7 linked regions of the Homo sapiens genome follow. The protein of the gene in region 2 interacts with the protein of the main gene of each other region in a pairwise test. Each region holds a gene or a part of one and is shown on either strand. Other genes may lie near its edges. The genes, in order: NIN, RBM10, FAM124A, DHX38, AKAP9, U2SURP and RBM12.

The links.
Region 1: the proteins of RBM10 (region 2) and NIN interact in a two-hybrid assay, tested with the Homo sapiens proteins (one large-scale study listed by BioGRID).
Region 3: the proteins of RBM10 (region 2) and FAM124A interact in a two-hybrid assay, tested with the Homo sapiens proteins (one large-scale study listed by BioGRID and IntAct).
Region 4: the proteins of RBM10 (region 2) and DHX38 interact in a two-hybrid assay, tested with the Homo sapiens proteins (one large-scale study listed by BioGRID and IntAct).
Region 5: the proteins of RBM10 (region 2) and AKAP9 interact in a two-hybrid assay, tested with the Homo sapiens proteins (one large-scale study listed by BioGRID).
Region 6: the proteins of RBM10 (region 2) and U2SURP interact in a two-hybrid assay, tested with the Homo sapiens proteins (one large-scale study listed by BioGRID and IntAct).
Region 7: the proteins of RBM10 (region 2) and RBM12 interact in a two-hybrid assay, tested with the Homo sapiens proteins (one large-scale study listed by BioGRID).

What each region holds. Positions count from the first base shown.
Region 1 is NC_000014.9:50,758,163-50,761,662, forward strand, and holds part of NIN (ninein), read right to left. Parts: intron 2,198-3,500; coding exon 1,695-2,197; intron 469-1,694; coding exon 1-468. UniProt on the Homo sapiens protein: Centrosomal protein required in the positioning and anchorage of the microtubule minus-end in epithelial cells. May also act as a centrosome maturation factor.
Region 2 is NC_000023.11:47,183,221-47,187,313, reverse strand, and holds the end of RBM10 (RNA-binding protein 10), read right to left. Parts: intron 2,260-4,093; coding exon 2,110-2,259; intron 2,013-2,109; coding exon 1,947-2,012; intron 1,873-1,946; coding exon 1,684-1,872; intron 1,599-1,683; coding exon 1,524-1,598; intron 1,250-1,523; coding exon 1,143-1,249; intron 1,057-1,142; coding exon 927-1,056; intron 841-926; coding exon 715-840; 3' UTR 501-714; downstream 1-500. UniProt on the Homo sapiens protein: Binds to ssRNA containing the consensus sequence 5'-AGGUAA-3'. May be involved in post-transcriptional processing, most probably in mRNA splicing. Binds to RNA homopolymers, with a preference for poly(G) and poly(U) and little for poly(A).
Region 3 is NC_000013.11:51,281,398-51,284,739, forward strand, and holds the end of FAM124A (protein FAM124A), read left to right. Parts: 3' UTR 1-2,842; downstream 2,843-3,342.
Region 4 is NC_000016.10:72,107,347-72,110,846, forward strand, and holds part of DHX38 (pre-mRNA-splicing factor ATP-dependent RNA helicase PRP16), read left to right. Parts: coding exon 1-202; intron 203-298; coding exon 299-453; intron 454-880; coding exon 881-1,036; intron 1,037-1,126; coding exon 1,127-1,261; intron 1,262-1,453; coding exon 1,454-1,579; intron 1,580-2,068; coding exon 2,069-2,164; intron 2,165-3,500. UniProt on the Homo sapiens protein: Probable ATP-binding RNA helicase. Involved in pre-mRNA splicing as component of the spliceosome.
Region 5 is NC_000007.14:92,076,862-92,080,361, forward strand, and holds part of AKAP9 (A-kinase anchor protein 9), read left to right. Parts: coding exon 1-146; intron 147-834; coding exon 835-1,014; intron 1,015-2,217; coding exon 2,218-3,291; intron 3,292-3,500. UniProt on the Homo sapiens protein: Scaffolding protein that assembles several protein kinases and phosphatases on the centrosome and Golgi apparatus. Required to maintain the integrity of the Golgi apparatus. Required for microtubule nucleation at the cis-side of the Golgi apparatus.
Region 6 is NC_000003.12:143,008,070-143,011,569, forward strand, and holds part of U2SURP (U2 snRNP-associated SURP motif-containing protein), read left to right. Parts: intron 1-2,745; coding exon 2,746-2,790; intron 2,791-3,500.
Region 7 is NC_000020.11:35,658,401-35,661,900, reverse strand, and holds part of RBM12 (RNA-binding protein 12), read left to right. Parts: intron 1-2,886; 5' UTR 2,887-2,971; intron 2,972-3,500.

The sequences.
Region 1 (3,500 bases), on a different chromosome or scaffold from region 2:
CACAGGACCTCCTCACGCTCCCTCAGTTCCCTTTTGTGACTGCTCTTCAGCTCAAGTATCTGGTCAGACAGCAGGCTTTGCTGGGTTTCAGATACATTTCTTAGGTCTTCCAGGTCTTGGAGTAGCTGCTGTCTCTCGACGACCATGCTGTTCAAATGTTCTTTGTATGTTTTCTCCAGCATCTCTCTCTCCTGGGTCAGGACCAGAGAAGTTGTTTTCTCTCTCTTAAGAGTCTCTTTCAGCAGCTCCTGGGCTTCCGCACACTCCTGGGTGAGCTCGTCCTTCTCAAATTCCCACTGGGATTTCTCCTCACGCTGCTGTTCCTGGAGGTCCTTCAGCTCTTGGCGGTAGCGCCCCTCCAGGCTTTGCAGAGCGCTTTCACACCTCTCAGTGACTTTCTGACAATCAGACTGAAACTGGGCTTCTATTTGAGAGGTTCTTCTATTACACTCTGTTTCCATTTTTTCCCTAAATATAGTCAACATACAGCATTATTGAAACTGCCGCCAACTCCAGAAGCAAACAAAAACCATTTTCCCATGCACTGAGAAAGCTGCTGAGCAAACAACTGAAATACTCCCTAAAAATGCTCTTAACTTACTCCTATGTGATTCATTTATACTGGAAAGGGATCTCATTTCTGAAAGCTAAGACTGGCAGCCATAATTCATTTAAAAGACTTACCTCTCTCTGGAGTTAGGGGGAAATCTTAGAAACTAATTTCTCTGGCACACTCCCGGATGTATTTGTTTATGGATTTTTAAACCAAAGACAAATGACCAAATGTATATTAATCTAATTCCTCACTTGGGAAATATATACCATTCCTTCATTTTAATTAAGCATGCGTTATAGGATATCAGTCACATAAATGACACATATGAACAAATTCATTCTGCTTTTGCTTCTTACTTAACGAAGTAGCACCAAGTCAATCAGCGTGTGACGAAACAAAGCCCTCAAATAAACCTGGGATTTCACATGAGGAATGTAAGCATGGAGTGCTGTTTCTTAACTCTGGGAGGAAATGTAACCTTGCCTGGAATCCAGTTTATTAATAGCTTTTCTCAGAAAGCAACAGGATTGAACTAGGAAGGAACCACTTTTGGGATAATCTTATCCTCCTCTTGAGCCTTATAAGGTAGAATAAATCTTAATACGAGGAATACTTTCCTCTTTTACAAACATAACAAAATAAAAACAGTTCCAATCATCCCAAGGTAGGTTCACATCAAAATAATGGCAAAAACAGTAAAAAAATATTTAAAAGAGTCTACTCAATCAATGGGCTATTATGCCTTCTGACTTCTTCAAGTCTCTTAAGCGACTGGCACTTTTTTTTTTTTTTTGAGACGGAGTCTCGCTCTGTCGCCCAGGCTGGAGTGCAGTAGCGCGATCTCGGCTCACTGCAAGCTCCGCCTCCCGGGTTCACGCCATTCTCCTGCCTCAGCCTCCAGAGTAGCTGGGACTACAGGCGCCCGCCACCACGCCCGGCTAATTTTTTGTATTTTTAGTAGAGACGGGGTTTCACCATGTTAGCCAGGTCTCGATCTCCTGACCTCGTGATCCGCCCACCTCGGCCTCCCAGAGTGCTGGGATTACAGGCGTGAGCCACCGCGCCCAGCCACAACTGGCACTTCTAATGCCCCGAGGGATGGTGCCCCAGGTAGCTTCATTTCCCTTCACTTTCTTACCTTCCCTCCTGAAGCTCCCTTTGGTGCTTTTCCAAGAGCTCTTTTCTTAACTCCTCTTTCTCAAGAGTGTGTTTCTCCACCAGGCTTGTCAGCTGCTCCTGGTGAAACTGCTCTAGTTCCTGAGTCAAGCCTCTCACCTTCTCTTCTGTCCAGGCGCTACTCTGAAGGCCTTCCCTCTCCCGCTCAAAGCTTGCTTGAGCCTGTGTCAGTCTAGCCTTGAGCTCCATCTCATGTTGCAGCCTCAGCTTCTCCTGCAGGTGAGTCTTTTCCTCCTCAAGCTTCACTTGCAGTTGTTTTTTCTCCTCCTCATGCCTGCAAGTGGCCTCATGATGTGCCTCCTTGAGCACTGCTGCTTGCCCCTGAAGTTCAGCAATTTCATTTTTAAGGTCACTTATTTGTTTTTCTAAGGTGTGCGTTTCGTTCTCATGCCTTTGCTTCATGTTCTCCTGTGCCTTCTTGCAGCTGACCACGGTTTCGTCCAGCTGCTTTTCATAATGGCGCACCTGAAGGCACAGAGTGACACCACCACAAGATTACTCAGCTCAAGGTCACTGAAAGTGAAGTGATGGAGCAGCAATTGCTTTTTTTTTTTTTTTTTTTTTCCCTACAAGACATTTCTCATTTCTCTATCTTGTTTTAAAGTAACTGAATTCAACACTTTAAGCAAGATACTTAAGTCAGGCATGGTTTACATATCTCTTTTAAGTGGCTGAATTTTATTAGTGTCTGAACAACCTTATTAAGAACTGAGCAGCCATTACACATAGCTACCCTCTGTCTTCCCATGCATCCTTTCCAACTGTAAACTTGAGTCTTGGAACATATATATTTTTTGAGACAGGTTCTCACTCTGTCACCCAAGCTGAAGTGCAGTGGCGTAATTATGGCTCACTGAAATCTCCATCTCCTGGGCTCAAGCAATCCTCCCACCTCAGCCTCCTGAGTAGTTGGGACTAAAGGCACACACCACCGTGCCCTAATTTTTTTTTCTTGGTAGAGACGGGGTCTCACCATGTTGCCCAGACTGGTCTTGAACTCCTAGGCTCAAGTGGTCTGCCCACCTCGACCTCCCAAAATGTTGAGATTACAGGCATGAGCCACTGTACCCTGCTGGGTCTTAAAATACTTAATTAAATTCAAATATTAATTGAACACCTATCAGGTACTTGCAGGCCTCGGAATACAACGCTGGGTAAGATATGGTCCCTGCTATCCAGGAGAAACCAGTCTAGACATGGATATGACAACTATAAGTACAGTAGGAGGCAGAAAATAAAAGGTATACAAAAAAGAGCTACAATGTAACCCAGGGACTCAAAGGAGGGAAAAAAATCACATTTTAGTTGGAGAAATTCAAGAATGGCTTCATGCAAGAGGCAGCATTAAATATAAATCCTGAAGGGTAAGTAGACTTTCGAGAGGCAGAAAGAAACTAATATCAGCATAGTTTGTAACAGCACAAGCAAAAGAGGACAGAGTGTGATGGACAACTAGGAACTACCCAATTTAGCTGGAGGATAAGGTAACTCATAAGAACGGTCAGTTGAAGTCTGGACTGGAAACGTCAGTTGAAGTCTCATGGTGAAGAGTTTAGAGGCCAAGGTTCAGAACTTGTACCTAATTTAGTAGGCAATGAAACATCAAAGGGCTTTTTTTGGTTTCACTGAGATGTTTTTAAAAAAGAAATTGGGAGATAATATAATGGGTTTCAAGCTTCAAGTTCCATGATTGCCAGGGCTGAAGATATTACATTTTGGAGAAACTCTCCAGAAAAAAGGGGCCTTGCTGTCAGCCTACAAAACCATC
Region 2 (4,093 bases):
TGGCCTTGGATTTGCAGGCCAAGCTCCACCTCCACCCCTCTGTCATCAGCCTGTTGAGGGCTCTGGGCCAACTGGAACCTGAGTACCTCTTGTATTCTACTTGGAGATGCCTGAGGGCATTGTCTCCAGATCTAGGGATGGCAAAATGCAGTTTAGCCTTGGGACTGCAGGCTAAGTAAAGCCAGGGGGCAGCAAGGACAGGGGATGGGGGTTCCCAGTCCTAGCTCTGATCAGGGGGCGCTTCATGCCTGGTGGTGCTAGATTTCCTGGTACAACATAACCTGCTGGAACCAACAAGGGAGAGGGGCCATAACCAGGATATTATGGGTCGGGGTACAGGTCAGAACCCCATGTTCTAGTAGCCATTATGTTCCAGACACTGAATGCCACCACTGCCATCCACCTTGGCCTGATAAGGTCCCCTGTCCATCTGCTTGGGTCCCCGTGTCTGTATAGGCTATACAACTGTGCTAGAGCACGAGAAAGAGGAGAGGCCAACATGCAGACTTTTCAGCTTTTATTACAAAACAGGACGTGATCCCAGCCCAATTTTCCAACAAAAGTCACCACCTCAATTTGATTTGGTCAAGCCCTCTCTGGCTGGGGAGTGGGCTGGCCGACAAGAGCAAGGCCCCGTCCCAGCCATCCAACACTCTGTCCTTCCCTGCCCCAGGATGGACACCCAACATGTGGAGAAGTTGCTCTTGAAGCTGCTCACTGGGCCTCGTTGAAGCGGGTCACCATTGTCTTGTGCAGTGTCTCCTTGTAGGACTCGGTTGAGGTGACCCCGTAGGAGCTGCCCCGTGCACCCAGGCCGGAGCCCCGCACCCGTGTTTGGGCCTGTGTGAGGGAGGCAGGCTCTGTCAGGCTGGTGGGGGATGCTGTGAGGGGTGCTGGGGGATGGGACAGGACTGCCTGAGACTCACCTCGATAGGCGTTACAATGCCCTGCTTCTTGCGGCCCAGGCCGCTGCCCTCTTTCCAGCCCATGGCCTGCAGCATCCGACTGCCAATGTTGTCACTGCCCAGCCCGTCCCGAGTAGGCTGCTCGAAGTCTCTGCAGGGGCGGTGCACAGCATGAGTGGTCGGCCTGCCGGCCCCGGCCCCGGGCTCCAGACCCCCTCACCTGGCCCAGCCACTCACACAGAGGCTGTGGATATGCCGCCGTACTTCCTCCTCTTGGGCTCTGGCGGCTCGGGGATGCCATACTTTTCTCTGCGTTCAGCTGCACGGTCCCGGTACTTCATTTGCTGAAAGTTTGTATGTGTATGTGAATGTTGGGGAGCTGGTCTCTTTTCTCAGGCAACACAGGCATGGGGAGTGGGGTCCCACAGGGCATGCCATCTGGCTAATGAGGCTCAGGTCCTGAGGGTCAGGCCATCACAGGCACAAGCAGCCAGGATAGGAAAATGGGGAAGAAGGCTCACGGGGTTAACACGTGAGAAATTGAACTCCAGCTGCCTGAGGTGATGGGGACTTGGAAGGGACACAGGGGAGGGAGCCCAGGGTCAGGTCACACCTCACCTCCATGTCATTCTTCTCTAGTGCTTCTAGCTCGTTTTCTGACAAGTGGGCTCGCCGGTGAATCTCAAGGTTTTGCTGCAAGAGGGACAGGATGAGAAGTGAAGAGGATGAGCCTCAGTGGGCCAGGCCCCAGCATGCCCTGCCAACCATCCGCTGTTACCTTGTGGAGCCCTGAGAGCTGCTGGTGCCGGATGAGCGCCTCTTTGCTGGGGAACTGGCGTCGGCAGAGCAGACAGGCCAGCTTCTGCCAGTCGGTGAGCTTCTCCTCCCGCTCAGGGCCCCCACGCTCCTGCTCCTCCTCACTGTCACTCTCCCCGCTGTAGGCTGCCACCAGTCCTCGCGGAGGGCTCTGTAGAGGGTGAGGGTGGGCGGTCAGGCCTGGCCAGATCAGAGCCCCCGCCCCTCTCTGCCTTGGGCACTCACTGGGCGGTCGTCACTGGCCAATTTCGGGAGATCCATGCTGGTGTGCTGTCTCTCGGCTAGTGCTCCCTGGGGTGGAGGGACACAGAAATTCAGGGACTCCACAGAGGGCCCAAAGGAAGGACAAGATTGTGGGGCAGGGTGCAGGGGGGTGGCCCCAACACACCTTCTTCTCGAGGATGGCATAGCCAGCATCTGCAGTGGCTGACTCCCGCCTCTCGTCATCTCGCAGGGAGCTGATAGGCTGGAAGCTATTTTTGAAGTTTTCTTTTTGTTTGTTGAGACTGCGGGCCCAGCGTTCCATGTCCTTGGCAATCTGGGGGTGAGGGTGGAGGTGAGGTTCCCAGAACCCTCATGACCCTGGGGCTACTAACTCTATCTGCTGACCCACTGCCCTGCATCCTCAAACACGGGCCAGCCACTATCCCTAGTCCGAACCACTGCAGAAGGCTTCATCTGGCCTCTGGGCTACGGCTCCTGACCACCTTTCCCAGCAGAGCGCTCTTTCATGAAGTATAAGCCACTCCCACCCCCAAATACAATGTCCTTAAAACCCTTCCTTCGCCTCCCATCACACCAAGAATAAACCCAAACTCGCAACCACAGCCTGCAAGGCACTTGGCACCTGGCTACTCCTGACCTCATCACTGAACACACCCTGTGCCCCCACCCCCACTGGTTTGCAATGGTGAGGTGGCAGAAGCAGTGTGGACAGAGTGGCGGGCCCATCTGGGAGGCAGATGAGTGGAAGCTGAGGCAGAACAATCAGAAGGTGAGGGACACAGTAGTGCAAGTTCCTATTTTCTGTCACCAGTCACCAGTGCTTCTTGCCAAGCCCCTCTCTGGCTGTGTTCTCTGCTATGTTTTTTGTCCCTCAAAGTTCATGTGTCAGAAATGTAATCCCTAATGCAACAGTGTTCACAGGTGGAGCCTTTATCCCGGCTGAGTGCAGTGGCTCACACCTGTAATCCCAGCACTTTGGGAGGCCAAGGCGGGTGGATCACTTGAGGTCAGGAGTTTGAGACCAGCCTGGCTAACACAGTGAAACCCCAGCTCTACTAAAAAAATACAAAATTAGCTGGGCGTGGTGGTGGATGCCTGTAATCCCAGCTACTTGGAAGGCTGAGGCAGGAGAATTCCTTGAACCCGGGAGGCGGAGGCTGCAGTGTGCTGAGATTGCACCATTGCACTCCAGCCCAGGCAACAAGAGTGAAACTCCATCTCAAAAGATAAATTTAATCCCTGATGCAACAGTGTTGACAGGCAGGGCCTTTCAGAGGTGATTAGGTCACAAAGGCTCTGCCCTCCTCAAGAGATCGCGGCTGCTTTTTAAAGAAATTGTATAAGTTTATGGGGTAACAAGTGCTTTTGTAGCCAGGCGCGGTAGCTCATGCCTATAATCCCAGCACTTTGGGAGGCCGAGACAGACACATCACCTGAGGTCAGGAGTTTGAGACCAGCCTGGCCAACATGGCGAAAACCCGTCTCTACTAAAATTACAAAAAAATTAGCTGGGCATGGTGGCGGATGCCTGTAATCCCAGCTACTCGGGAGGCTGAGGGAGGAGAATTGCTTGAACCCAGGAGGTGGAGGCTGCAGTGATCCGAGATTGCACCACTGCACTCCAGCCTGGATGATAAGAGCGAAACTCCATCTCAAAAAAATAATAAATAAATAAATAAAATAAACAAGTGCTTTTGTTACATGCACAGATTGTATAGTGCTGAAGTCAGGGTTCTTAGAGCATCCATCAGCCAAATAATGTACATCATACCCATTAAGTAATTTTTCATCCTTCACCCCCTCCCATCTCCTCCACCTTTATATATATATAATATATATATATTTTGAGAAGGAGTCTCGTTCTTGTTGCCCAGGCTGGAGTGCAATGGCACGATCTCAGCTCACTGCAACCTCCGCCTCCTGGGTTCAAGTGATTCTCCTGCCTCAGCTTCCTGAGTAGCCGGGATTACAGGCGCCTGCCACCACGCCTGGCTAATTTTTGTATTTTTAGTAGAGACGGGGTTTCGCCATGTTGGCCAGGCTGGTCTCAAACTCCTGACCTCAGGTGATCTGCCCACCCCAGCCTCCCAAACTGCTGGGATTACAGGCATGAGCCACGGCTCCCGGCCCCCCTCCACCTTTTGAGT
Region 3 (3,342 bases), on a different chromosome or scaffold from region 2:
TTAGCTGGGGGGTGGTATATCTCTAGAGACACAGCAGAAAAATACTGGCATTTTTATGCAAATAAATTCTCAACAAACTTGTCATAAAATATATTTTTTGAATATTCAGCATTTGAGGTATGGTTTAGTGGGTTTATACAATTTAAATGGCTTATATAATTATTTGAAATGAAAAGAAAACCTAGTCAGCCAGAACCAATTTGGCAATTTTTCCATGGTATGAAGGCAAATCAATTAAGGCCAAAACGTTGAATGTGGGAGAGATAGTAAGTGACTTGTATGAGGGATTACTGCATAATAACGTAACGCACACCTTACTGGATTCTCCATATATATTTACATTACCAGAGAACAGTGGCCCTAGGGATGTTTAAGCACTGCTTATAATGGAAAAAGTCAGCTTGAGAAGTAAACGTATATCAGACTACAGGTAATTCCTCATCTTGAAGCCATGCAACACCTGCAAATCTGGATTTATACAAAAGTTGCTAATGTGTTTCATAAAGATTTAGCATGAGTAACAGACTCTTGGTGCATTTAAAATATGTGAGTTCCAGAAAGTAGATTTGCATACACCTTTTCAACAGCACATTTCACTGGAATGGATGAGGGGCTTCTGAAGACCACTCCACTACCTGAATTTATTTGGATCACTGAGGAAGAGCATTTGTTGGGATTACAGAATTATAGGCCATTAGACATCATGGGTAGGTAGTCTTAAGATCCTTCAACTTTCAAAAACCACAGTCTAAGGACTATATTCAAATGACAAGAGCCGCACTGTATACTGCTTTCTGCAGTGACCATGCTGGGTCACGCATCCTATGTTTCTCATTTTTAAATGATTTGGAACATTTTAGCCAGCATTTTGATCACACAGATTAATAATGCTGTTCTCCCCAAAACGGGAAACTTTACCTGAAACGCTCTCCTGAACAAACACCAGTGCACTGCCAGCCTCACATGATTGCATGGGAGCTTTAATTAACGCTGGAGCCCAGCAACCTTGGCTTTTCCTGCCTGTTATCTGCTACTGTCACACCGTGAATGGTATTTGAATCTCACCTCCCTCTCACCTCAGTAAGAGTATGTTTGTTTACAGCCCCAACCTCAGCAATGCCAAAGGCTGGCATCGGGGGCAGTGCCAAGCTGTCCCTGGATACTATTTACCTTTGAGGAAGAACAGCATGGGTTTGCCAAGCTCAATTCCCAGGCTGGTGCTCCTTGAATTAATCATGGCACAGTGTTCATCTCTCTGGAAATGCCCACGCCAGCCCAGACACAGCCTCAGAGTCCTTTCCAACACGACCCTCCAGGCAGCAGTTACCAACCATCAGTCTTCAGCTGAAGCTTCAAGTCTTTGCCATCCTTGTAATGACAGCCTTAGGCCTTGCCCCAAGCATTCTGGACTCTCTAACACTCAGAATTGTAATGTAATATTCTGCTCTAATTTAAATTTTTAAAAATATAGTCTCCTAATTCAGGATAAGGAGTAAGCAAACTTTCTGAAAAGGGCTAGATAATAAGTATTTTAGGCTTTGCCAGTCATATGGTCTCTTGCAGCTACTCAACTCTGCCACTGTAGTATGAAAGCAGCCATGAGTAATATGTTAATGAATGGGAATGGCTGAGTTCCAATAAAGCTTTATTTTTTTTTTATTTGAGACGGGGTCTTGCTCTGTTGCCCAGGCTGGAGTGCAATGGCGCAATCTCAGCTCACTGCAAGCTCTGCCTCCTGGGTTCAAGCCATTCTCCTGCCTCAGCCTCCCAAGTAGCTGCGACTACAGGTGCGCACCACAATGCCTGGCTAATTTTTTGTATTTTTAGTAGAGACAGAGTTTCACCATGTTGGCCAGGTTGGTCTCAAACTCCTGACTTCGTGATCCACCCACCTTGGCCTCCCAAAGCACTGGGATTACAGGCATGAGCCACCATTCCCAGCCAATAAAACTTTATTTACAAGAACAGCTGGTGGGCCAGATTTGGCCCAAGGGTCATAGTTTATTATCCCTTGAGCTAGGCTGCTGCCTGAGGTTGATTCAACATCCCAGCTCCAGTCAACAACAAAAATTCTAAGTCTCCCGCCTAATGCTGCTGTGGTGTGTCATGCCAAAAAAGTGGGCTACTCAGGTTAGACCAATGACTTCAGAACCACAGGGCTCAGAACAGGAAGGAGCTTCTTTCTGCAGAGCTGATTCCTGGAAAGCCACCAGCACTCCACCTTCTGCCCAGAAATGTGATTCAGTCAATAGCTGATGAGGAAAAGCAACCTGCAAACATTAGGAAGAAGGAGAAAAATAATTCAGAGGTGATGATACCACCTCCAATGAACAGGGAAGCAAGTTCATCAGTAACAAAAGTCAGTGAGGCAAAAAAAAAAAAAAAAAAAAAAAAAAAAGGCTAATGGCCGAGGGCTGGCTCCTTCTTTCTCCCTAATCAGTGTCCTTATTTCAGTGTGCTCACATGCTCGCCTAGGACTGCTTTAGAGTACAACTCTGGACCCGCCCTCATCACAGTCCAATCTACCAAACTGAGTGACCCTAAAGGACATCATAGACAACATTTGAAAGCAAGAAATGCAAAATGTTCCCATAGCATCAGGTGAGCAGGGAGAGGATGCCCACTGTAGACCACATGGAAATGGCAGTCCCTCCACGGAGAGGGAATCACAGGAACACATTTACCAAAGCCTTCCCTTCCATTCCTGGCCATTCCAGTAGCATCTTCCTCATCCAGAAGGGCTTCCAATACTCTCTGGAGGATCCTGACTCGTTTGGAGTATTATCCTTGTAAAAGATGCTGGCACATTGTAGGTGCTCAATAAATGTGTTCAATTGAAAAATATTGAGGTTGTCTCATAAATTATATCTATGTATTAGGCTCTGTAGTGTAAGAAGTCTAGATTGTAGCCCTGGTTTTTTGTCGCTTAATGGAACCGTGTCTCTTGTTTCCTTGGCCTTACGCTTCCTCCAGCATTGCCAGGGAGGGGATGTGTTGGTAAGTGCTCTGGTTGAGTTACATCCCATCCCTCATTTGCCTCTTTTCCAAGTAAGATCCCCTCAACCCCAAATTACTGCTCACGGTCCCACTTTGGCCTACACTAAACACCACCTAGTGTCTGCTTTAAAGAGCAAATCTTTCTCTGTCTGTCCCCAACTCACCTGGCAAGTCCTACAGAAATCATCTTGGGTCACCTCAACTGGTTAAAAGGAGCATAAGAGGAACTGGTGGAAGCAGTGGGTGAGCCACTGCAGAGACTTTTGTGACATGGGAGGGTTGATGTGTGCTTGAATAAATTGGGTTTTAGTAGTGGCTGCTCCTTGAGCCTCCGGGTCTGAGGGC
Region 4 (3,500 bases), on a different chromosome or scaffold from region 2:
ACCCAGAGCGCCTACAAGAATGAGCTCCTGACCACCACAGTGCCCGAGATCCAGAGGACTAACCTGGCCAACGTGGTGCTGCTGCTCAAGTCCCTCGGGGTGCAGGACCTGCTGCAGTTCCACTTCATGGACCCGCCCCCGGAGGACAACATGCTCAACTCTATGTATCAGCTCTGGATCCTCGGGGCCCTGGACAACACAGGTGAGGCGGCCCCGGGAGCCTCATGGGTGCTGGCGCTTGACTTCCTTCTTTCCTCTACTGTCCCGTCAAATATCCGGGTTTGCTCATCTCTCCTAGGTGGTCTGACCTCTACCGGGCGGCTGATGGTGGAGTTCCCGCTGGACCCTGCCCTGTCCAAGATGCTCATCGTGTCCTGTGACATGGGCTGCAGCTCCGAGATCCTGCTCATCGTTTCCATGCTCTCGGTCCCAGCCATCTTCTACAGGCCCAAGGTGGGGCAGCGGCTGGCTCCCCTCTCCCCGGAGGGCTCGAGGAAGTGTTGGGGAGGGGAATGGCTTCTCTCTGTATTACTGAAATGGAACAGAGGGCAGAATCAGAGTTTCTGAAGAATGATTTTGCTGTTCTCGGTTAAGCAGGTTGGGGTAGGGGAAAGGAAGGGCTGGGCCAGTGGTTCTCAGGGAATGCTTTGGAAATTTGCAAGAGCATTTTTTATCTTCTAGTATGGTTGCTCTTGAGCCCTCATGTTTTAGAGTAGACCTTTTTAAAAATTATTTTAATTTTTCTCAAATTGTCAGGGCAACCTATTGACATGTTTGAAGTTCTATGTGTGGGTAGGTGGTAGTGTTAGAACCTCTGGGATGTGCTCAGTGGGCCTGGACCCCCCTGTACTTAGAGTGAAGGTTCTTTTTCCCTTCCTAGGGTCGAGAGGAGGAGAGTGATCAAATCCGGGAGAAGTTCGCTGTTCCTGAGAGCGATCATTTGACCTACCTGAATGTTTACCTGCAGTGGAAGAACAATAATTACTCCACCATCTGGTGTAACGATCATTTCATCCATGCTAAGGCCATGCGGAAGGTAGAGTGGTGGATGAGCAGGATGTTGGGATGAGGGGAGGGTCGAGAGGAAAGGAGGGCTCCCTCCTGGTGCCTCCGTCTCCTGCCCTAGGTCCGGGAGGTGCGAGCTCAACTCAAGGACATCATGGTGCAGCAGCGGATGAGCCTGGCCTCGTGTGGCACTGACTGGGACATCGTCAGGAAGTGCATCTGTGCTGCCTATTTCCACCAAGCAGCCAAGCTCAAGGTGAACCCAGGAGCCCAGTGAGCCCCTCCCAGCCTGATACCTGTATAAGGGCAAAGTTCTTCCTTTGTCCTGGTGTGGTTCTGCAGATCTGGGCTTCCGCCAAAGGCTGTGTCAAGAGTGTTAAGGGATGGGGTCGCTGCCCAAATGGGTGTTGTTTTCCTGATGTGGCTGCCTGTTGTGTCTCCTCCCTAGGGAATCGGGGAGTACGTGAACATCCGCACAGGGATGCCCTGCCACTTGCACCCCACCAGCTCCCTTTTTGGAATGGGCTACACCCCAGATTACATAGTGTATCACGAGTTGGTCATGACCACCAAGGTGAGTCTTTTCCAAGGCACTTGCATAATGCAGGCCCCCTGTCTGGCCAGGCTTTGAAACCCTTCACTGCGTTCTGGCATGAGCTTTTAGCCTGGGAGCCTTGAGGCCACATGCATTGTTTTGCGGGGCATGTGAGGTTGGTTTTCATTTGGGGACTTGGGGAAGCTCTGCACAGGGTTGACCTCTAGACTGCATTGACCTCAGCTGCATGGGCACGATTGTTCCCCACTTGCTGCTTGGGATGAGCAACCCCTCTTGGTGTCATTAGAAGGATTTTCGGAGGGGTTGGGCCTTTTCTTTTAGATACTGGGGGCATTTTCTCAAGTGTGGAGGAGTTTGGATGGGAGTATCTGGGGTTTTTCCTTTCCTTTTTTCAGCCTTGCAGGGCCAGGGATTGGGCCCTTCCCATGTGGCTCCTAATTGTGGAACCACTCTGGGAGGGACATTGGCCCTCCTGTGACCCTCGCCTCCCTGCCCTTCTGCCCGCAGGAGTATATGCAGTGTGTGACCGCTGTGGACGGGGAGTGGCTGGCGGAGCTGGGCCCCATGTTCTATAGCGTGAAACAGGCGGGCAAGTCACGGCAGGTGAGGATTCTGTGCTCTTCGCAGGGGTGCTGTTTGCCTGTGGGGTCGGTGTTCCCTCCGCTTGGTATTGAAGACTTGCGGTCATCCAACCCACTTACTTCTCTCTGCAAACATAAAGGCTGTGATCCAGCAGGCTGGGTCTGTCTGATTCCCCACCACCCACTCCAGTTGTTTGGTAGGCTGAGCCTTTAAAAACAAAACCAAAAAACTCATTATTGAAAAGTCCAAATATTCATGAAAGTGGGAAAAACAGTACAACAGGCCACCATGAATTCGTTGCCTTGCCTCTATAATTGTCAACGTTTGTTCAATTTCACTATTCCTACCCCACTCCACACACATCCATTTTTTTTTTCTGGAATATTTTAAAGCTTATCTCATACATTATTCATCCATAAATACTTGAGTATGTGTCTCTGACTAAAAGGACTTAAAATTTTAAATATAACCTCTGTGCCGTTATCACTCATAAAAAAATGAATACTTAATGTCACCTAAGTCTCCAGTCCGCATTTGGATTTCTCCATTTATCTCAAAGATAACTTCTTATGATCGATTTGCTTGAATTAGGATCCAGGCATTGCAACTGCTTATGTGTGTTAACTGTTTCATTCTAGAACAGGCTCCACCCCACGCTTTTTTTCATGACATTGATTTATTGGAGCAGCCAGGTCATTTGTCCTGTCGAATAGTCCATATGATGTATTTGCCTCATTGCTTGCTCACAGCGGTGTTTAACCTGTGCCTGTGTTTCGTGCACTTGCTGTAAGCTGGCGATGAGTCCAACCGCTCAATTAGATCCCGGCTGAGCTGCGTGTGGCAGAGATGCCTGCATGTGGCACTGTGAACCTCCTCTTAGATGCCTTCAGGAGGCATGTGAGGTCTGGTGGCCCCACCTTTGCTGATGGGAGGATGGATGAGGGGCCCCAGTGGTGGCAGCCTGCCTCTTCCCTGATAGGTTTCCACTGCTCCTCCATCTTGAGGTTTTAGCGTCTGTTGATGGCCATTGCCTAGATCCATATTTAGGGTTGCAAAATGGTGCTGGGCTTTGGCTTACCCCTTTTCGTAGCATAATTCTCCCCATACCAGGCTCCCTTGCATCTTATGCCTGTCTCTTCCAGCCAGCAGGTAATCACATCTTCCCTGTTTTTCTGTACTTCCTAGCATAGTTGTGAACTTGATTTTTCAAAAAAGAAGGAAATGTAAGTACTTCCTGGACTGAGGGATGACTGAGTTAGGACTGATTGTCCAGTGTCTTGAGTCAGTGAAAAAAGCAGGCCTCAGCTGCAGAAGAGAAGGCGGCTTTGGTACTGGGGCAGGCAGCCATGTGGAGCAC
Region 5 (3,500 bases), on a different chromosome or scaffold from region 2:
ACTTAGAAGAGCAATTAGAACAGTTTAGAGAAGAACTGGAAAATAAGAATGAAGAAGTTCAACAATTACATATGCAATTAGAAATACAGAAAAAGGAATCTACTACCCGCCTACAAGAACTTGAACAGGAAAACAAATTATTTAAGGTAATTAGTTAAGAAAAACTTTTATCTGTAAATAAGTCATAGTTTCAGTCCTATATTGCTTTATTATTATTATTATTATTATTTCTTTCTTTTTTTTTTTTTTTTTGAGACTTAGTCTCACTCTGTTGCCCAGGCTGGAGTGCAATGGTGTGATCTCGGCTCATTGCAAGCTCCGCCTCCCTGGTTCAAGCAATTCTGCCTCAGCCTCCCGAGTAGCTGGGACTATAGGCACGTACCACCACGCCTGGCTAATTTTTGTATTTTTAGTAGAGATGGGGTTTCACCGTGTTAGCCAGGATGCTCTCGATCTCCTGACCTCGTGATCCGCCTGTCTTGGCCTCCCAAAGTGCTGGGATTACAGGCGTGAGCCACCACACCTGGCCCCTATATTGCTTTATTAAGCATTCGATAAATCCAGCTGTTAAATAATACTCAACAGAGGAACATTAACAGGCAGACACATTTGCATACAGCTTATTTTCAGCCCAACCTGAACATTTGAATTCATCATAAATGAAAATTTTGGGATCATTTATCAAAATATTTTAGAATTATTGATTTACAGTAACCATATGGTGTCTCTGATTTTATTCATTTGTACGTTATAGGCTCTGATTTCTTTTGTAATTATGTTCTGAAAATGATAGGTAATGATATATCCAACTGTGATAATTATTTTTGTTCCTAGGATGACATGGAGAAACTGGGACTTGCCATAAAGGAATCTGATGCCATGTCTACTCAAGACCAACATGTGCTATTTGGGAAATTTGCTCAAATAATACAGGAAAAAGAGGTAGAAATTGACCAATTAAATGAACAAGTTACGAAACTCCAGCAGCAACTTAAAATTACAACAGATAACAAGGTATACTCATTTAAAATTGATTATGAAATTAATATGAACCAGAGTTTTAAAGGGCAAAATGGTTATAATGTTGCTCCCCATTGAATTTAAAAAACAAACCAATTTTATTTTATTTTATTTTATTTTATTTATTTTTTTTGAGACAGAATCTCGCTCTGTCGCCCAGGCTGGAGTCCAATGGTGCAACCTCGGCTCACTGCAACCTCCACCTCCTAGGTTCAAGTGATTCTCCTGCCTCAGCCTCCCGAGTAGCTGGGATTACAGGCACCCACCATCACACCTGGCTAATTTTTTGTATTTTTAATAGAGATGGGGTTTCACCATGTTGACCAGGCTGGTCTCTATCTCCTGATGTCAGGTGATCCACCCACCTCAGCCTCCCAAAGTGCTGGTATTACTGGCATGAGCCACCACGCCTGGCCCAATTCTCTTTTATTAATTTTAATTTATTAAGACACATTGGTGGCCAGGCACAGAGGCTCACACCTGTAATCCTTATACTTTAGGAAGCCTAGGTGGGCGGATTGCTTGGGCCCAGGAGTTCAAGACCAGCCTGGGCAACATGGTGAAACTTTGTCTCTACAAAAAATATAAAAATTAACTGGACATGGTGGCATACCACCTGTAGTCCCAGCTGCAGTGAGCCTCATCATGCCACTGCACTCCAGCTTGGGTGACAGAGTGAGACCCTGTCTCAAAAAGAAAAAAAAAAAAAAGCAAAGACACATTGGTTTAATAATTTATATGTATTTTTCTCCCCTCCTAATATTGTCATAGGATTCTAATGTTTTTCAGAAAGGCTCTGTGACTTAGATTTTATCATGTTATTCTAACCAAATCTATTATAAATTATAATATTTAATATGAGTTAAGTAAGGTAATTACCTTTGGTGCCATCGGTTGTAGACTTTATTTCCGTACTTCATCCTTTTCCATTAAGAAGTATTGATATTGACTATTTTCCTAATAGGGAATCAGCAACTAAAAGCTTATATTACTTTATACTTAACAGAACTTTCTGAGCCTTGTTTGATATGATGGGGGAGATATTGGTCTATAATGAAATTAAGTAGTATGTCTGAGAAGTAGTGTATTATTTTTGTGTGTGATCATCTCTTTGAGGTACTGCCCTAAAATAAAGTAAAATTTTCAAAATGTAAATACATATATATTATGTATGTTACCTTTTTCATTAATTATTAGGTTATTGAAGAAAAAAATGAACTGATAAGGGATCTTGAAACCCAAATAGAATGTTTGATGAGTGATCAAGAATGTGTGAAGAGAAATAGAGAAGAAGAAATAGAGCAGCTCAATGAAGTGATTGAAAAACTTCAACAGGAATTGGCAAATATTGGACAGAAGACATCAATGAATGCTCATTCCCTCTCAGAAGAAGCAGACAGTTTAAAACATCAATTGGATGTGGTTATAGCTGAAAAGCTGGCCTTGGAACAGCAAGTAGAAACCGCTAATGAAGAAATGACCTTCATGAAAAATGTACTTAAAGAAACCAATTTTAAAATGAATCAGCTAACACAGGAATTATTCAGCTTAAAGAGAGAACGTGAAAGTGTGGAAAAGATTCAAAGCATACCAGAGAATAGTGTTAACGTGGCTATAGATCATCTGAGCAAAGACAAACCTGAACTAGAAGTAGTCCTTACAGAGGATGCTCTTAAATCCCTAGAAAATCAGACATACTTCAAATCTTTTGAAGAAAATGGCAAAGGTTCCATAATTAATTTGGAAACAAGGTTGCTACAACTTGAGAGCACTGTTAGTGCAAAGGACTTAGAACTTACCCAGTGTTATAAACAAATAAAAGACATGCAAGAACAAGGCCAGTTTGAAACAGAAATGCTTCAAAAGAAGATTGTAAACCTACAGAAAATAGTTGAAGAAAAAGTGGCTGCTGCTCTTGTCAGTCAAATCCAACTTGAGGCAGTTCAGGAATATGCAAAATTCTGTCAAGATAATCAAACAATTTCATCAGAACCTGAAAGAACAAATATTCAGAATTTAAATCAACTAAGAGAAGATGAGTTGGGGTCAGATATATCAGCATTAACCTTGAGAATATCAGAATTAGAAAGCCAGGTTGTTGAAATGCATACTAGTTTGATTTTAGAAAAAGAACAAGTAGAAATTGCAGAAAAAAATGTTTTAGAAAAAGAAAAGAAGCTGCTAGAACTACAGAAGCTATTGGAGGGCAATGAGAAAAAACAGAGAGAGAAAGAAAAGAAAAGAAGCCCTCAAGATGTTGAAGTTCTCAAGGTTAGTTTTGTATTTTATTAGTTTCATTTAAATACCCCAAGAAACTAAGCTGATTGCTAATTTACTAAATATGGTGTTCTGTTTACATCTAACAATTTATACAAGAAGGTTTTTATAAAAATATACCACTTATAAAAAATAAACTCTTGTTAAAAGAAAAACTAGGACAGGCGCGGTGGCCCACGCCTGTAATCCCAGCACTTTGGGAG
Region 6 (3,500 bases), on a different chromosome or scaffold from region 2:
CCTACACCGGTGCATTGTGCTACACTATGCTGTTACTGCTCTGTTTGCAAATTTATCAAATTGTGTAATTTTGAAAGCTGACAAAATTGTTACTTTTGAACTGATTATTTTTGTATTAGAGATTATTTAATTTGGTGAATGGTTACGCAAGTGAGATCCTTGAAGATTATAGAGCTTCATCTTTTGATGACTTGGAGTCAGGGAAGAGTTAACTATATGGAAATAGGCAGAATGCCTAGGTTCTTGTATCTTTTGTTTTTAAATCCTAGAAATGATGATTTGGATGTGGTGGCATCAAAGACTACAGAAAGGGTAGCGCTTTCTTAGTTATTCTTTTGGATGCTTATTCTTTCTGGGTGAACTTTAGAATTGTTTTGGCAATTCTTTTGCCCCCTTGCAAATATTTCCCTTTGGAATTTAGAGCGGTTGAATGAAATTGTATTAAATATGTAAAGAAATTTAGGTGTCATTGACATTATCTTAATATTGAATTTTCCCATCCAGTAATATGAATCTTTTGAAAAGGTGGCTTGAGTAACTGGATTTTTCTCGAAGTTTTTGTTTTCTTCACAAGGGTTATATACATTTCTTAAATTGGTTTCTAGATGTTTTTATATTTTTTGTTGCTTTTATGATTAGGATGTTTTTGTTGCTTAGCAAGTTAATACTGGTGTATTGGAAGGCAATTGAGTTTTTTTTGTTACTATTGTTTGTTTTTGATATGGAGTCTCTGTCGCCTAGGCGGTAGTGCAGTGGCGCGATCTCAGCTCACTGCAAGCTCTGCCTCCCGGGTTCACACCATTCTCCTGCCTCAGCGAGTAGCTGGGACTACAGGCGCCTGGCTAATTTTTGTATTTTTAGTAGAGATGGGGTTTCACCAGGTTTGGCCAGGATGGTCTCCATCTCTTGATCCACCCGCCTCGGCCTCCCAAAGTGCTCGGATTACAGGCGTGAGCCACTGCACCTGGCCCAGGCAGTTGATTTTTTTCAGTCCCTTCAGCCTCTTGCCTGAACTTGTTTTTCTTTTGTAAGAGTAGTTATTTATTCTTTTGGATTTTTAAATTTCTAGATATTTGTAAATTTATGCATTTCAAGATATGTTTCAGGGTGTGTTTCATAGTTAATAAATACTAAAAATTTTCTTTTATACCACCTTGACATTTAAGAAAGATTAGCCGCTAGAAGAAAATCAGGGTGGACACAAAAGTTGGGGACAGAAAAACCATGGACAGAAAGAGTGAGATGGGGCCGGGTGCGGTCGCTCATGTCTGTAATCCTAGCACTTTCAGAGGCTGAGGTGGACAGATCACCTGAGGTCAGGAGTTCGAGACCAGCCTGGCCAACGTGGTAAAACTCCGTCTCTACTAAAAATACAAAAATTAGCCAGGCATGGTGGTGCGTGCCTGTACTCCTAGCTACCCAGGAGGCTGAGGGAGGAGAATTACTGGAACCCGGGAGGCGGAGGCTGCAGTGAGCCGAGGTCGCGCCACTGTACTCCAGCCTGGGAGACAGAGTAAGACTCTGTCTCAAGAAAAAAAAAAAATGAAAGAAAGAATGAGATGGGAGGGGTCCCAGTGCTTGGTTGTCCTGTTGTCCTGGGCTGATTTTTGCCTATGCTAATGCGCAATACAGTGGAGTTCAGAGGAGTAAATTGATTCAGTGTAAAAATCTTACCAGCTGTTCTTAGCCTTATGTCTGGACAATGTAAATAAAACAATACTGTATGGATCTTTGCTCTTTTTTAAATAACATGAATCTTCAGTTTTTCTCTTAAACTAATATTTTATCTTGTACTTTATATGACATCTTGTCTGGGAGTTGGGGTCAGGTGAGATATTTGTGATCTCAATATTCTTGATTTCATTTGAACATTTGACACTTAAATATATAAATAAAAACAAGTAAAATTTCACTACCGTATACCCTCAAAAATAAAAACAGCTCAGTGACAGTTATATTTTGGATCCCCAAGTAAAAATTCTTGGAGAATCTTTCTTTCAGAAAGATAGCATACATTATTTAGTTAATCGTCCTACAGCTTGTCATCTTTGTCTTTACATGTGTAGTGGCAACAAGTTATTGCATACCATGTATAATCTGATAGGTAGATCACTTAAGAAAAGTTGAAGTTTTAACAGTTGACATCACTGGAAGATATTATATGAACTCTTTCTCATGCCACCAGGCAGCCTGTGACATGCTATCGAATCATCTCCCTTAAAACGAGTTGTAAATGGTGCCTTATTGGGGATTTGATAATATTTTCTGGAACTTTGCAGAATTTGTACCTTTTAATAGACAGCAAGGATTTATATGTGGATTTCTTTATGTGGCTTTGGGTGATTAGAGAAAGAGAGTTCTCGTGCTGTGGACCAAGAAGTTGCTGGGCAGTGCTGTGGCAGTAAACGATGCATCTATGATTAGGAAGAGCTTTTGCATAAAACTGTGTAAAAATGGTGGTTAGGTTTCCAGTGTATACTATAAAGAGGTAATTTTGCCTCATATATATCCCACTAGTGTTTATTATATTTTTGGAAATATGCAGGCTGAATTTTAAAGAAATGACTTACACATTTACTTTGTATCACAATCTTTTCATAAGTCAGAGACTGCCTTTGCTCAGTTTTATTAGCTGAGGAGAAATTGCCAGAAGTTAGGAAACTCTTAAGTTTGTATAACACGAGAGACATGTTTTGTTAGTATAAGACATTTTAAATTATTGACTTTTATTTTTGATACTTGTAGACGAGATCATCAGATGTTCATTCATCTGGATCTTCAGATGCACATGTGAGTATAGAAGGCAATCTTTGTCTTTTTTCCTTTAAAATTTAACTTCTCCTCATATGTATCCCTACATCAATGATTTTACTTGACAAATAAATACAATTGTATGTGCTTTTTTCTTTTACTCTTTTTTTTCTAGGCGCCTTCCTTTTTTTTTTTTATGTTCTGCTTGCATAACTTAGCCCTCTGAAGCGATGTTAGAAACCTAGTATGTATATTTCCTTATGATTTTTATTGTGTAAAAATCTGTACATACATAACGTATCTATACTTATACTTTGACTATGGGATTGCATTATGCATATGCCTTTCTCACCGCACAAAACATATGTTGGAAATCCCTGCAGGTAAACTGTTAACAGCTCTAATCTGTTCTTTCTTAAGGCATCATAATGTTCTGTGGTGGGGAAGTGCAGTTGTTTGTTATTTCTTTGTTGATGGGCATATATTTTTTGTTTAAAGCTTTCAAGTAACATTTTGGATAGATAATACTACAATAAGTATTTTTTTAATATATGTTATTACAGCAGTGTTCAAAGTGTAGTCTGAAGACCCCTGGAGTCACTGAGAATCTCTGAGAAGGGTCTGTGAATTCAAAACTATTTTGTAATAATACTAAGGCATTATTTATGCCTTTTTCACCATTTTGGCATTTGCACTAATGCAAGTGTAGCTGGAGGTACAAAAGCATTTGGTGGGTAAACTGTTGGCAC
Region 7 (3,500 bases), on a different chromosome or scaffold from region 2:
CTTTTGGATCTGAAGAACCTAGCTCTGCTGTACCCTGGTTCTTGTTGATTAAAGAGTGATAACTGAACAAAGTTAAAGTTCACTTTTGGATGTTTACTACCAGATGAAGAGTGAAAATAGTCGTTTTAGTTTGTGCCTTGACTTCTTGATGAAGAGATTTGTTGTCAGACATTTTTTTCTGAAATTCCAAGTGATTAGAATGGCTAGTAAATACGAAAGTCTGTCTTGCCATAATATGTTAAATTTTTGTAGCAGATACTTGTGATTTGTGCATGCATCCGGTATTTTGTCAAGTTGAAGCAAGCCTTTATGTTAGGACTAATTCCTGATAATATGAATGGAAAACATACTAAAGCCAGCTTCTTGTTTTAGATCTTCTGAAGTATATCAGTGGCTTTAATGACAAATCAGGCCCATTTTCTCCTTTCCTATCATTATGCTGTATGTATAGATAGAATATGTATTTTAGATGTTTTATTGTTTAGTTATTATTTTAGTCTTATCCTTCTAAAGTTCAGCAAAGCTTTAGGTAAATGGCGTGGATTTTTGAAATCCTGCATTCAGTCGCTAGCTGACATTTAGAATACAGGAATAGTAGTTTCCTGGAAAACAGTGACACTTATGTTAAATTCTTGTGGTTTTTACAAAGTGAGGTGTCAACACAGAAGTATTTCAGTTCTATTTCCATTTACCTTTCCCTTTTGAAGAGGTATAATACCAAGGGTTGTGAAGTTCTGACTTGTAGCATCAACTTTCTGCATGGTTTTCCTTGGTATGGGGTGGGGTGGGTATTCCTCTTTGCTGAAATAGAAGAGAATCATAAATTTCTATCTGGATTGATTTTGTGCTTTAAGTTGTACACATAAAACTTGAACTAGGCATTTGTCAAATTCAGCTGGGCCTTTCAGCCTTGCCTTGTGGAATGAGAAATATCTTCCTTTTAAAGGTAATTTCTGGTAACCTTTTAGAAATTTTTGAGAGTAGACCTGGTGAGTTCCCTTTGAGCTTAACTGGCTGACCCCAGATATGTCCTTCTCAAGATAGACATACGGTATCTTTTGAGTTTGCAAGGGAAGAGGCTGAGAGGAACCTTCTTACCTTATATTCAGGCATATGCCCTGGCCCCATACCTGACCTTTTGAATTGGAATCTCCAGTAGGGATCAGATGTTTATTACAAGTTCTAGAAACTAGAAAGTTACCCTGTTATGTGGCTGCTGGAGTCAAACCTGTACATAAATATTACAGTACTTCATGCTCTTGCTCATTGCTTTACTTGAAGCAGGTTTTTTTCTGTTTCACATTTTCCTTTGTGACCTGTTAAACTACTAGATATGGCTTTCAAATGAAGAATTTTTAAACTCCTTAGACTTAGTTAGGCTAGGCCAGGCGTGGTGGCTCACACCTGTAATCTCAGCACTTTGGGAGGCTGAGGCGGGTGGATCACTTGAGGTGAGGAGTTAAGAGACCAGCCTGGGTAACATAATGAAACCCCTGTCTCTACTAAAAATACAAAAATAAGCTGCGGGTGGTGGCGCAAGCCTGTAGTCAGTCCCAGCTACTCCAGAGGCTGAGGCATGAGAATAGCTTGAACCCAGGGAGGCGGAGGTTGCAATGAGCCTAATGAGCCTAGATCGCGCCACTGCACTCTAGCCTGGGCGACAGAGCGATACCCTGTCTCAAAAAAAGAAAAAAAAAAGAGGCTAGATTTCTACAACATGTAAAAGATTAATACAATGCTCTAGACTTTTGATTGTGTTGATTACATATTTGCATAGCTTTTTGTGGTAAAACCATCTCACTATTCTTTAGCAACTTGAGTAGTTGACTAGACGATGAATAGTTTGTCCTTTAGAAAATCACACAGATTTTTGAAATATGTTTTACTTTTTGGCGATGAATATTAAGGTCATTAGTTGTATTTTGGTCTTGGAAGATACTAATTTAAGATGAGCATCATTTGGAAAAGTAGTCGTAGGTAATCTTAATACTGAACAGTGGCAAATTTCTTCTCTCTCCGAATTAAAACATGACCTTTGAAAAAAAATAAAAAGCAAAAAATGACCTTTGAATATAGTTGTCTAGACATTTGGTCATATATGCTTGTGACTTGTTAATAACCTCACCAGTTTGGAAGAAATGACAGTGAAAGATGAGTGACCTGTTTTTATTTTGGGATATACTCTTAATATGTCAGGCATTTTTAGGGTGTTTTTAAATTTTATTTTATTTTATTTATTTAAATTTTACAAGTTTTTGAGAACTGTTGTGATGTCAGAGGAAAAAACACTTTCCCTTAATATTTTGTTAATATTTTGAGCTCCAGTGGAATTAGTCCTTATAGCAAGAACTCATACTTCATTTGTTTTGTGATGTTGGATGCTATTTTGTGCAAAATAAAATATATTGAAAGAATAATTGCAGTAATTTCCATGAGTACCCTTGAATTGCTATCTTAAGTTGTCCAAGAATTGTTATTGTGCGAACTTGTGCCTTTTCATCACAAATTTGGTGAGAACCTGGGGAAATAGACTTGTGTTACGGAGTTTTCTGGACTGGTTTAATTATAAAGTGATCAAAGCAATTAGCTGTGAAGCTGAGCTTTATGACTGTTTTAATTTTCAGTGGATTCGTTATTGGGCTAAGTTAATGACACTCTTGTAAATATATAATTATTTTGAGATACTCAAATTTGAAAGCAATACCAACTAAAAAGCATGTGTGGGATTTTGTTACGGTGTCTTTCTTTTTTTTTTTTTTTTTGATATGCATTCTAATGAAGTACTCTGGTGGTTTCAGACTCGCCTTCGTAATGTACAGTGTGGCCTGTGCGTGTTGTTTTGTGTTTCCTGCATTGATTTTTGCCTCCGTTTATTCTCTATTGCAGTCTAAAAGTTGGTTTTAATTGGTTGCCCACAGGATTGACTTGGCCTCTACTTCTTGTTAAGGAAATTCATCTCTTGTTTTATCAGGTAAGAGATTTTGAATAGAGAGTTCGTTTTTATACAAAATAAAATGAGATAGCTTATTAAGAAATATGAAAATATATGTAGCAACTATATTGTGTGTGTGTGTGTGTGTGTGTGTGTGTGTGTGTGTTTTTGTTTGCTTGTTTTTTGTTTTGAGACGGAGTCTTGCTCAGTTGCCCAGGCTAGACTCTGTTGCCCAGGCTGGAGTGCAGTGGTGCCATCTCGGCTCACTGCAACCTCCGCCTCCCGGGTTCAAGCACTTCTCTGCCTCAGCCTCCCGAATAGCTGGGATTACAGGCGCCTGCCACCATACCCGGCTAATTTTTTTGTATTTTTAGTAGAGATGGGGTTTTATCCTCTTGGCCAGGCTGGTCTTGAACTCCTGACCTTGTGATCCACCTGCCTTAGCCTCCCAAAGTGCTGGGATTACAGGCATGAGCCGCCACCCAGGCCGGTGTGGTTTTTTACAAGTTTATCTGAGGGATAGGGGTGGGGTAGATGGGTGCTTTGAACAGTTGTTCCTTTGGGGGTC